Linked DNA regions of Homo sapiens. The protein of the gene in region 1 binds, or shares a complex with, the protein of each later gene. Each region holds a gene or a part of one and is shown on either strand. Other genes may lie near its edges.

Evidence for each region.
Region 2: LIN7C (region 1) and CASK share a complex: the UniProt entries of both Homo sapiens proteins name them as parts of the brain-specific heterotrimeric complex.

Annotation. Positions count from the first base shown.
Region 1 is NC_000011.10:27,492,432-27,497,071, forward strand, and holds the end of LIN7C (protein lin-7 homolog C), read right to left. Parts: 3' UTR 1,987-4,640; downstream 1-1,986. UniProt on the Homo sapiens protein: Plays a role in establishing and maintaining the asymmetric distribution of channels and receptors at the plasma membrane of polarized cells.
Region 2 is NC_000023.11:41,913,237-41,921,450, forward strand, and holds part of CASK (peripheral plasma membrane protein CASK), read right to left. Parts: intron 1-8,214. UniProt on the Homo sapiens protein: Multidomain scaffolding Mg(2+)-independent protein kinase that catalyzes the phosphotransfer from ATP to proteins such as NRXN1, and plays a role in synaptic transmembrane protein anchoring and ion channel trafficking.

The sequences.
Region 1 (4,640 bases):
TTGCATTTCTTTGCCAAATAAAAAACAAACACAAAATTAGTTTTGGGTTTTTAATACCCTCTGATGAAATGAATTACTTTCAGTAACTGCCATATACAGGAAACTTACCTGCTGCAGGGGCTAAAATTTCTATCCCTATTGGTTAGAATGAGAAATCATCCACACTTTCTTACCTAGAGACAAACTTTAAAAACACCAAATCTTTTTTTTTTTTTTTTTTTTTGAGATGGGGGTCTCACTCTGTTGCACAGGCTGGAGTGTAGTGATGCTATCTCGGTTCAGTGCAATCTCTGCCTCCGGGGCTCAAGCAATTCTCATGAAAGCCTCAGCTTCCCCAGTAGCTAGGACTACAGGGACGTGCCACCACACCCAGCTAATTTTTGTACTTTTATTTATTGACTGATTGATTGAGACAAGAGTCTCATTCTGTCACCTAGGCTGGAGTGCAGTGGTGAAATCTTAGCTCACTGCAACCTCTGGCTCCTGGGTTCAAGCAATTCTCCTGCCTCAGCCTCCCAAGTAGCTGGGATTACAGGAACATGCCACCATGCACCGCTAATTTTTGTATTTTTAGTAGAGATGAGGTTTCGCCATGTTGGCCAGGCTGGTCTTGAACTCCTGCCCTCAAGCGATCCACCCTCCTCGGCCTCCCAAAGTGCTGGGATTTATAGGTGTGCGCCACTATGCTGGGCCTCAATTTTTGTATTTTTAGTAGAGACGGGGTTTTGCCATGTTGCCCAGGCTGGTCTCAAACTCCTGGGCTCAAGCGATCCACCTGCCTCGGCCTCCCAGAGTGCTGGGATTACAGGCCTCCCAGAGTGCTGGGATTACAGGTGTGAGCCACTGCACCTGGCCCCAAAACACCAAATCTTGATGTTTGGTGATTTTAAATATACATACTGTGGTGTCCAAATAGACCCTGTCTCAAAAAAAAAAAAAAAGATTTGGTGTTTTTAAAGTTGTCTCTAGGTAAGAAAGTGTGGATGATTTCTCATTCTAACCAATAGGTATTGTTCATGAGAATTAGGAGAGGCCTTACATATACCTTGTTAAAATGAAGTATTTGTCCCTTTAAAATTTAAAATTCAAAAAATAAAATTGACAAATGGGTTCTGTATGAATTTACCTTTTGCCCTGTATATAAAGTAAATCTTCAAGATTCCATCAGGGAGATTATCTGCCACTAATAAGTAAACGTACAAAATATGGGTCAGCAATTCATTATAGTAAAATCAGAATAATCAAAATAGTGAATATAACAAAACCCGAATAGAAAAATTTAGTGAATGGATACTCTGGTCTACTAAAGTTTTGAAAAAAACTGAGTCCTAACACTAAATGCTTTTTGTTGTTCCTCGGCTGTGTGGCACATTTCCACACTTTTTTAAAGTTAATGGTGGTGATGCCTTGGACTGTCTAACACCTAGTCCAGTAGTCTCCTGTCTCTATGCCTAGGTCATCACCTTAAAGGTTAATTTAACAAATCCTTACTTGGACTTATTTTCCAATGATTTTCATTAGAATATGGCTTCAATCCTCAAAGCTCCAATTTAAAAATTCCGAGTTTCTTTGATCAAAATATAAATTTGATAATTTCTTATGAATCTTATTCTTCTAAAGTTTTTAAGCATAAAGGTTGTTTTCTAAATACCAAAAATAAAAACTTGCTAATTTTAATTTTTTGACCAGAATTATTTCCTTTAGCTCATAAGGTTCTGAAGCTATTTTACATGAACAAAAGCAAACACAAACAGTATTTACTATGCCAGGCACCTTTTTAAGGGCCTTACAGAAAATGGCATGACACTTACAGGCATTCTTATTAACAAATGACAGGTGAGGGAACTAAGGCACAAAGAAATCAAGCAACCTGTCTAAGGTGACACACGGTAATGGTGGAACTGGGATTGAAACCAGAGTTGTTTGGCTTCAGAATCTGTGCTCTCAATCACGTCATACTGCCGCTCTTGAAATAACACAAGAAAATGTTTTCTTTAAATTTTATGAAAGACAAAGCAAAATATAGAAATTCAAAGTTTCATTTCAGCAGCCACCAGGAATTATGTTTTTTTATACATACCTTTCATAAACGTTATCTATTGTGTAGTTATATCAACTTTTTTCAAATCCAAAGAACGAGGACATAACTCATACAAATTTATTTTAAATAAGCCTTAAAATCAGAATTAAATTGATAAATGAAGTAATCTATTGAAAAATGTTATTTTACATCCATTCTGGGTATTACCACAAATTTTAAAAGTAGAAGCATAGCATTTGCCAGTTATTTTAAAAAACCGAGTCAATACAAATTAGTCTCAAAGTTCTTGAAAATTAATAAGTGATTTTTCTCACTACTTAACCATACCTGGAATAACCTTTGAAGAAACACTACTAGCAAACTTTAGACAACAATTATAAAACCAGATTGTTGGCAGAGGACACAACAAAATGTAAGTTAGAAAATTCATAAACATACATTTATTCAGGAAATACAATTACTAGAATCCTTGATATTTCAATGATCATTCCACATTATAAAATATTCACAAACATGTAGTTTTTTAAGTCTACACCAGGTCATGCTGACATTCTTTTTGGATAAGCCATAACCATTTCTTCTATTAAATGCTATAATATCCATTTTAATTGTAAACAAAGTACTTGAGCCAGACTACTTAAGTACTTGAGCAAAATAACTTAAAAAAATCTTAAGAGGAGGAGGACAATGATATTTTTTAAAAACATATTTGAGGCTGGGCATGGTGGCTCACGCCAGTAATTCCAGCACTTTGGGAGGCCGAGGCGGGCGAATCACGAGGTCAGGAGATCGAGATCATCCTGGCTAACACGGTGAAACCCCGTCTCTACTAAAAATACAAAAAAATTAGCCGGGAGAGGTGGCACACGCCTGTAGTCCTAGCTACTCGGGAGGCTGAGGCAGGAGAATTGCTTGAACTGCCTTGAGGTGGCGGAGGCTGAAGTGAGCCGAGATCACACCACTGCACGCCAGCCTGGGCAACAGAGCAAGACTCTGTCTCAAAAAAAAACAAAAACAAAAAACAAAAAAAAAATTTGAATCGTCAAATCCTAAAGAACTAGGCTGCTATTATCTAGTATTATACTAACAAATGAAGTGCCCACATTAAGACAGTACATAATTATTAACGACAATATTTCTCATCTGCAATTTTTAAACATGCTTTCTCAAATAACAAACACGTATTTTTGTAAGTTTTAAAGGCAAAGGGGGCAGAATGATGACAGACATAAAAAGCTCACATTTAAATTACTGGTAGATTTTATTAAAAAAAAGAAAAAAGAAAAAAAAAGATAAGACTGTAATTACTTCCCAAATAAGGAATGCCAAGTACCTTTTATTCCTAAAAGAAATTACTTGGCCAGGTGCAGTGGCTCACGCCTATAATCCTAATGCTTTGGGAGGCTGAGGTGGAAGCCAAGGAGTTTCAGGCTGCAGTGAGCTATGATCACACCACTGTGTTCCAGCCTGGGAGACAAAGCAAGATCCTGTCTCTTTTAAAACAAAAAACAAACAAACCAAAAAAAAAACAAAAAAAAAACCTAAGAAATGTAATTAATCATTAAGTAGCTGCAAATTGAACTGTTCTATTTTGATACTTCCTAAGAGTGTCCAGTGTAATCAGATCATTTTATAATGGGTTATTGACCCTAGGTGTCCTTTAGAACCACCTGGAAAGCTTTACAAAAAAAAAAAAAAGGGTGATTTTGATTTAGTTGTTATGGAATAGGACCCAGGTATCAATTTTTTAAAGCTCTGCCAGGCTAATATGTAGCTAAGATTGAGAATCACTAAGTCAACACATTTTGATATATCAAGAAAATAAATGGAAATGGGGGTGATAATTTATATTTGTAATTTACAAATCAAACATCTATCATACACTTACTATGTACCTAGTTTTATTCACGAATCATCCATTTCTAAGATAAAAATTCCCATCATTTCCTCACTGCACTAAACCACCACTGTACATCTTTGCCAATGAATGACTGTATTTTTCTATGGTCAAGATTTAAAATTCTGGGATACATTATGAAAACTGCATTAATGAAAACAACCTACTGCTATTCATGCTCAACAGTAGCAAGCTAAACTACTGTACTTGGCTCCTTTGAGCTACCCTTATTTTAAGAATTATAAATAGGTGTCAACCCACACAAAGAACAGATTGTGGATTACCGTAGGGAAAAAAATAGCTTACTCAACTTACTAAAAGTTTCAACACCAAAAAAGATTTAACTTGGCTGAAAGTTCTGAAACAGCTGAGACACAGAACCAGGAAGCTATAATTTATAATGAAATGTTGATACATACTTAAAAGCTACTGCAGCTGTAGCTATACTAAAATAAGATTTCTTCAGGGTTTACTTACCCTGAAATGCAAGAATACAAGCATAACAATAATATTACTGTTTTTATATGCACCAATACCTCTCTTTAATATATAAAGCTCTACAACAAATACCTCTAATAATTTTACAATTAAATTAAGTCCATACTTCTATACTACTTTGGTCTCAACATTTTTAAAACATCAATTAATTTTGAAAATTTACAATTTAACAACATGATCCTATCAATAACAAGCACATTTTGT
Region 2 (8,214 bases), on another chromosome or scaffold:
TACCTAATGCTAAATGACGAGTTAATGGGTGCAGCACACCAACATGGCACATGTATACATTTGTAACAAACCTGCACGTTGTGCACATGTACCCTAAAACTTAAAGTATAATAATAATAAAATTTAAAAAATAATAATAATGACAATGGCAATTAAAATAACAACCTTTAGACATTTCACATAGATCATGCTATTCAATCCTCACAACAACCTTACAAAGTATATACCATTAACCACATTTTACAGATAAAGAAACTGAGGGTCAGAGAGGCTAACTAACTTGCCCAGGACCTCATAGCTAGAAATGAATACATAAATGAACAATGAATAAAAGTTAGCACCACTAACAATTTTACACACATGGTAGAAAAGAATGTTCATTTCACCATATTATTTATGTAATAGAGCCTGTGTTTAGCACTGAGAATGTGCACATTTGGAAATTGTTGAAACTTACGTACATAACTGCCAAAAGTAATTTGAGTATCTCAGAGACATTCTAGAAATAAAAAATACTTATGCTGCACTTTACAATTCACTAATCCACACAAATGGTTTGTGAAGCAGCTATCATTCCTTTTATAAATAAGGAGAAAATAGCCACACTGTGCCCAAAGGTTACCAGATCAGAAGGGGGCTGCCTAACAAGCCACAGAGCAACCGCATTCCATACCTTTAGGGGAAATCACATACCAAGGGTAAGAAAGAAGGCCAAGAATTGATGATGTTTTCTAAAAACACAAATTAGAATCTATGAAATAGCAGTAGTATAATGGTAATCTGCACACCATGGAAGGACTAGAGAGAGAGACCTCTGTAACTGAATGAATATCATCATCCTTTAATTTAAGAAAACATTAAAATCTGCATGTAGTTGAATGGTAATACAGTGTACTTCTATCCTAGATTTAAATATACCAAAATACTCTAACTTAAGTGTTAAAAGCCTGAAATACAGACTGAACATAGTATATTTTGGATATTATTAAACTACATGAGAGACAGAACAATCCACATTCTTACCTGCAAATGATTCAAATACTCAAAACAATGATTACAAAGCAAAAAGGAAAGAAAGTATATTAAAAGAAATCACAAAGATTGGGAGAAAAAACAATGTACAACAGCCCAGTAATAAATAGAATACAAGAAGCTGAAGTGAAATAGCACGCACTTAGATACCAAAAAACTGGCTTATGTACAACGAAGCAATCGTTTCTTATTGTGAATGGATGTGGACAACCAAAAATAGCCAATGAACAAATTTAGTTAGGAGGTGATGGGAGAAGAAATGTGAAAGAGGAGGACAGTACTACATTCATCCAACGTGGACAAAAATCCTTGAGGCTAGAAAGAATTCAGTTTCCTATAGTAGAAAGATATAAGACAATAACAGTGGTTTGACACATACCAAGAACTTAAAGTAAATGTAAAGTATCTAAAACTTACTTTGTCACTTCATGAAAGGCTTCCATTTAATTGACAGTCATGCACAAGCTCGGGAATGAAAAGGACATAATCTTAGGAAAACCAAATGATTTTACCTAAAAGCCAGTCATCAGAAATCTGCAAAACACAATTAGAGTGAAAAAGAAATCTACTTTGTTTTTACCCTAAATATGTTGGTTCTGAGATAGATTTACAGAGAGATAGTATAAAATTACTAGTATCCACAGAAAAGAAGCCAGACCTAGCTTTTCAGACACATCATGAATTGACTATTAAACATAATATTCATTTTGATAAGTGCTTTAAATTGTTTCTCTGTTATAGCCACATGTGTTCTTAGTCCTCAGAGTATATTGGCATTTTACATTATTGATCCTCCCCCCTCTTTTAAACTTCTGTGCAGCCCATTATCCTGATTCTTCTAACTCTATGAGTTATACTCCAAACCACGAGCCCTAGAGCAGTCAACCCCCAAGAACTTGTTCACTCAGTTTTACTTCCACACAGATGACTCCCAAATCTTCACTGCCATTCCATACCTCTCACCCAAATTCCAGCTCAGCATTTCAAGCAATGTAAAATTACAATTGGCTTGCACTCAATCCAAAGCCAAAGTAACAATCCATATGACAGAATACTGGGCAGCAGCTAAAGAGGAGATAGAGACAGACAGATACATTGATGGATATGACAAGATCATCAAGTATATACTATTATTCATGAAAAATCAATATTTCAGCATAGTATACAAATATCTCACTTTTAAACAAAAAGCTTCCAGAAAGATGGAGAAGAAACTGAACAATGGTTACCTCTAGAGAATGGGGATATGGATGGTAGGAGAATTGAGACAGACTCACTACTTATCTTTGTATCACCTATATTTTAAATTGTATGGCTGGGCACAGTGGCTCACGCCTGTAATCCCAGCACTTTGGGAGACCAAGGCAGGTGGATCACCTGACGTCAGGAGTTCGAGACCAGCCTGGTGAAACCCCGTCTCTACTAAAAATAAAAAACTAGGCTGGACGCGGTGGCTCACGCCTGTAATCCCAGCACTTTGGGAGGCCAAGGCGGGTGGATCACGAGGTCAGGAGATCAAGACCATCCTGGCTTACATGGTGAAACCCCATCTCTACTAGAAATACAAAAAAAAAAAAAAAAATTAGCCGGGCGTCTGTAGTCCCAGCTACTCGGGAGGCTGAGGCAGGAGAATGGCGTGAACCTGGGAGGCGGAGCTTGCAGTAAGCCGAGATCGCGCCATTGCACTCCAGCCTGGGCGACAGAGTGAGACTCCGTCTCAAAACACACACACACACACACACACACACGCACACACAAATTAGCCAGGCGCGGTGGTGCATGCTTGTAATCCCAGCTTGTTGGGAGGCTGAGGCAAGAGAATCACTTGAACCCAGGAGGCGGAGGTTGTAGTGAGCCAAGATCGTGCCACTGCACTCCAGCCTGGGAGACAGAGCGAGACTCCATCTCAAAAAAAGAAAATAAAATTTACTACGTGCATCATTACTTTTATAATTTACTGTATAAAAACTAATTAATAAAGAAAAGTAACACAAAATTATTAAATCTCAATGTTGGAAATAAACATTAACTTCAAAACAAACTAGCTTCGGAAATGAAATTTTCCCAGGGTAGAAGTCAGAGACTCTATACTGACTTGGGCTCTACAACCAATACCATAGTGGCTCCAGGACAGAAAGGAAGGAGAGCAAGTTCTGTAGCATCTTAAATCCCACAGCATAAATCCAGAGCCATATTTGGTGCTTCTAGAATCTTCACTGTCAGTTGCAACTAAAAAATAAAACCAAAAAATGTGAGAACAGCACATCCCATCAGCTTGTTGGCTGGGGTCCGGTACCTGCTCTGCAATAGTTAACTCAGTCTCTTGATTATTTAAGGTGTACAGTGCTGGCAAACAGCTAGAAGCTCACAGACTCAGCGGCTGCAGCTCACTACACGGTTTTCAGAATCAGAGAGAACAATCTCCGTATTTTTATCACAGGATAAAGGAATAACTATCCTTTGGAAACCACTCCACCCCACTTCCAACAAACATCTACCTCTGAAACCTTATTACTTCTGGTTTGGCAAGTTAGGGGTAATTAATCAACTATCCTGTCTGTTGGGGCAAGGGAAATGGAAGAAAAAATTTGGAGAGTAAAAGAAGTAGAGAAAGTTCCAAAACAAATTATATTTTGGACAGATGGCCAAGAGTCTATATTTCCATTGCTAGATTTACCAGTTAGTTTGGTAACAAATGCTGATGTTTCATTAAAGAGAAAGACAAAAATAAAAAAGAAACAGATGAAAGAATGAATAGTATATGGAACCTCTACTGAAGAAATAAGAAATTTAACCAGAAAGTCAAACAACTAAAATTTGCAGTATAGAAACTCTGAAAATGAAGACGTGTCTTTAAGAAAATCCAACACAGTATTTTCACAACTTGAATTAGCAGCAGAATGCAGCATGAAATGAACAGACTTTAAAACCATGGAACCGCGTTGGAATCTGTGTGATCTTAGGCGAATTACTGATCACCCCCTCTGAATCTCAGTGTTCTCTGTAAAATGGGTATGATTAAATAATACATCCAAAATGCCTAACATTAGAGGGATAAATGTCAATCCCTTTATAAAGTAAGCTTTAAGTTATAGAAGTTTTTTAAACAACCTTATGTCAAAGTTCCTTTAAATGCAGTGCTCCTACCACATTTAAAATGTGAAAACGTTTAAGAAAATGTAATAATTCAAGAATAATCTCAAGAAGCAAGGTATATCTGCTCCTTCAATTTATTGAGTAGAACTACAGCTGGAGACAGAATTTTCAGTTTAAAGGAAATATCCAGGTACACAATTTAGGGACACTTGAGACGTAGTTCATCAGGTGAAACTGTTGCAGATACAAGGAAAAAATGGAGAGAGCTGAACTGCGTATGTCAAGTACATAGAAGCGTGTTACGGACATAAAAATTAAGGGAGTCCACAGGAAGTATTTATGAAGACAACTTCAAACAACACACCCTAAAGCAATCTGTAAAAAGCAGACAGGAAGAGACTAGAGAAGGTTGTATACATGCAGAAAAGCAACGGAGTAGCTCTGTTCTCCCTCCAAATGATCCTAGGATCATCAGGAATCAATATTGCTTCCCCACTCCCATTGAGGCCTGCTATCTGTAGCATCCACACCCTGAGTTCAAAAGGATTTTCCTCTGTAGAAGTACAGCTTAACTCCCATGGCTTGCATTCTTTCTGGGCCACCAACAATTTAGCTGCTGATCACTTCTTTTACCTTGTTACTTGGCTGTCACTGTGATCATGCACTGCTTTCACGATCACTGGTATTTCTGGAATATCTACTCATTTCTGGAAAATTCTCGGTTCCTTCAGGCAAACACTTGATCTTTTCCTAACATTAAAAACTAGTTTACCTACAAAGTCTAGTTAAAATTTCCGGGAAACATTTTTTCAACACAATGCGAAATTCTCCCTATGGTACTAGAAACCCAAATCACTGCATGAATCAATACATGTGAAAGTCATAGTAATTAGTACAAATTAGTAAAGCTGAATTTTTCTGTATGCTGAATTATATACTTTACGTATTATTAATCCAGTATTTACATAAAGGCTGCATTAACTCAATTCTCCAGCTAACAGCATTACTGGAATCACAAGTATGTAATTTAAAGCATACAAGCAACTTAACCATACTCTTTTAATAGAGTGTATGTACAAACACAATCCATACTAAACTGATAAATTTCTTCATATTAAATCAAGCCATTATAGTGGAAAACCATCATCAACTGTTATTGAAGCAATCCTTGTTCTGTGTTGTTCCAAACGTCAGACAATCGCCATGTTAGCATTAGATGAGTGTCATAAATCAATGTGGATCTTAAAAGGCCCAAGAAATCAAAGCCAAACACAAGCTAAAACTAAATTTTTACACAATAAGGCTGAGAAACACAAGTGCATAGAAGATAAAATCCATGTTTTAGCCATTTAGCTTCAATACCTTCCAAAAAGAATTTATTCTACTTTGTAAGAATTGTAAGCCTCTGAAAAGCCAGTCCCAAAATATTACATACATAATCTAAGTTTTAAGCCAATGATTCCTCATTATAGCTGCATATTAGAATCACACAGAGAGCTTTAAAAAAATGTCAGTGACCAGGACCCAGTCCCAGAAACTCGGACTTCACTGCTTTGACACAGGGCTCTGGCGTTGATCTTTTTTAAAAGCTCCCCGGATGATTCTAATATGCAGCCAGGTGGAGAACCACTACTTTAAACTAATGCAGGCTCTTCGGACAATAATTGCTCTGAGGTTGACAAACATGCTTTTTTGCCTTTTAATGAGATTTTATTAAAACTACTCAATTCATTCCACAGCTAATGAAAGGCAGTTACATTGCACGCACTGTGTTAATGGAGAAAGATGTGTAAGAAACATTCCCTGCCCTCAGGAAGCTCCTTATTAGTGAACTAGAGAGATCCATAAATAAGTAACTGTAATTAAATAAAAGTGCTCTCGAGGAGTAAGCAAATACAGCATGCCTCACAAAGTTGCACGTCATCCTTAAGCAAGGGTCATGCTGCATCATTCCAATTTTAGTGTATGTCCTACCAGAGCAGGAAAGTCTGAAGCTACAGGCTACTAAACAGGGCAAGTATTCACCTAACACAAGGTAAAAATGGTATGTATTTTGTTATTCCCTTTCATACACACTGCTGTACCAAGAAAGTAGGCATTTTTCTATGTTTTAATTTCGATGAATTGTCTTAAATTTCCTTCATGTAGTATTACCGGTTGTACACTTACTTATAATTGTAAAAGATACAGTAAATGATCATGACATAAAAATTAGTCATTAACCTCATTTGCATAACGCCCTTCCTTTCCAGTAATCGCTACATTTGCTAAGACAAGAAGTTTTGGGACTATGATAAGGTCTTATTATTGGAGATTTGTTTCAGTCATTTAAAAGATAGTTACATAGAAAATGTTATAGAACCAACAGTCACTCAAAGGAGTTTCTGCAAGATTTTCAAAAATGAGAAACACAGGGAAAAGAGTTTTAATTTTTAAAAAGGGAAACGGCATCCTTCCAATATTTGTAACAAATTGGGCACATGTTCCCTCAAAGACAGCTTTAACAAGGGTAAAGGCTGCAACCACTGGAAAGAAAACATATTCCAAATAATGATCTTATATTTCAAAACCTCATTAACTCTGTAAGTTATCTTTCTCAACCAAGGGGGAAAAAAACACACTGAAGGGTCTAAATTAAACGAGAACTTTCATTTATGCCATCAAGTAAGGCCAAGTACACAGTGGGTGAGTGAGTAGGTGGTTGCGTAGGTAGAGGAGTGAGTGGGTAGTCAATTAGTCTTGAAAAGTGAAATCTATTTTAAAGTACCTTAGTAAAAATTAAAACCTATTAAGATCTAGTGGTGAAAAACAACTTGTGATACTAATTTGGTAAAAAAGAAAATCAAAATTCCATAGAACTTGGATAGAAATCAATAAAAAGGTTTTCAGTACATGTGAATATCTTCAAGGGCTTTCTGTTCAAATTCAGAGGTGAACAAATTATAAGTTAAAAATGTATGCTGTCAAGGTCCCTGCAAGAAAATCTCAAGCTAATTTCAATTTCCAGATCAATATATACTAAGACAATTTACTAGAGAAACCTTCAACCTTTACTCAGATTGAGGAACACTATTATTACATTCTTTAACAATAAGGCTAGCTTGAATTCATTATTTCACATAATGGCATTTTATAATTGGCACTGACCAAGTCAGATTTTGTAGGATATGAATGAGATTTCACAGTTCATAGTAGTTAAGGTAGCCATAGAGTACCTATCACCTCAAAATTAGCTTGCTGCCCCTCTTTATGCAGCTCTGAAACAGTCAGAAAAGATGAATTTTTTTCTCCCAGGGGTGTTTCCTGAAAAATATTCTATCAATTACAAATCAGCAGAATATGGACTGTGTTAATGTGATTCTGACCATTTCTTTTTGATATCCAAAGAGATCACATCATCACCCTTCCAGACTTTAAGGAATCAGAACTAGTTACCAAAACTGATTCAGAGATGGCTATTTTACATCTTCACAATATAATTAACATTTTAATCTCACATTTTCCAATTATGACTTTGTTAGTTCATTTACATCAGCTATAACTAAGATGCAACAAACATCATTCACCCACACATACAGTCATTTGGAGGCTTTTGGGAAACACCTAATTTATCTTCACTGGGTGCTCCTAAGAATGAGGAAACCAAGGAGATTTTTGATGCATTTTTCTCTCTAGAACTGTGCTATTCACATGTGGCTACTGGGCACCTGAAACGTGGCTGGTCCGACTGGGAAACTGAATTTTGAATTGTATTTAATTTTAATTAATTAAAATTTAAATTTAGAAAAAGGTACTTGATTCGGTTATTGGAAAACTTTTATGTATATTGGGAACAACTTGGGTATGTGAATATACTTTTGCAAACGCAAATTTTATGAAACCTAAATACAGATTAAGTATTTCTGATTTTCATCAGAAATGTAGCTTAGTGTCAGAATTGAGATGTGCTATTAGTGTAAAATACACATTGGGATTTCAAAGACTTAGCATAAAAGATGTAAAATATTTCATTAATATTTTTTCATATTGATTACATGTTGAAATGTTAAGTTTGGATCTACAGGGTTAAATAAAATATTTTATTAA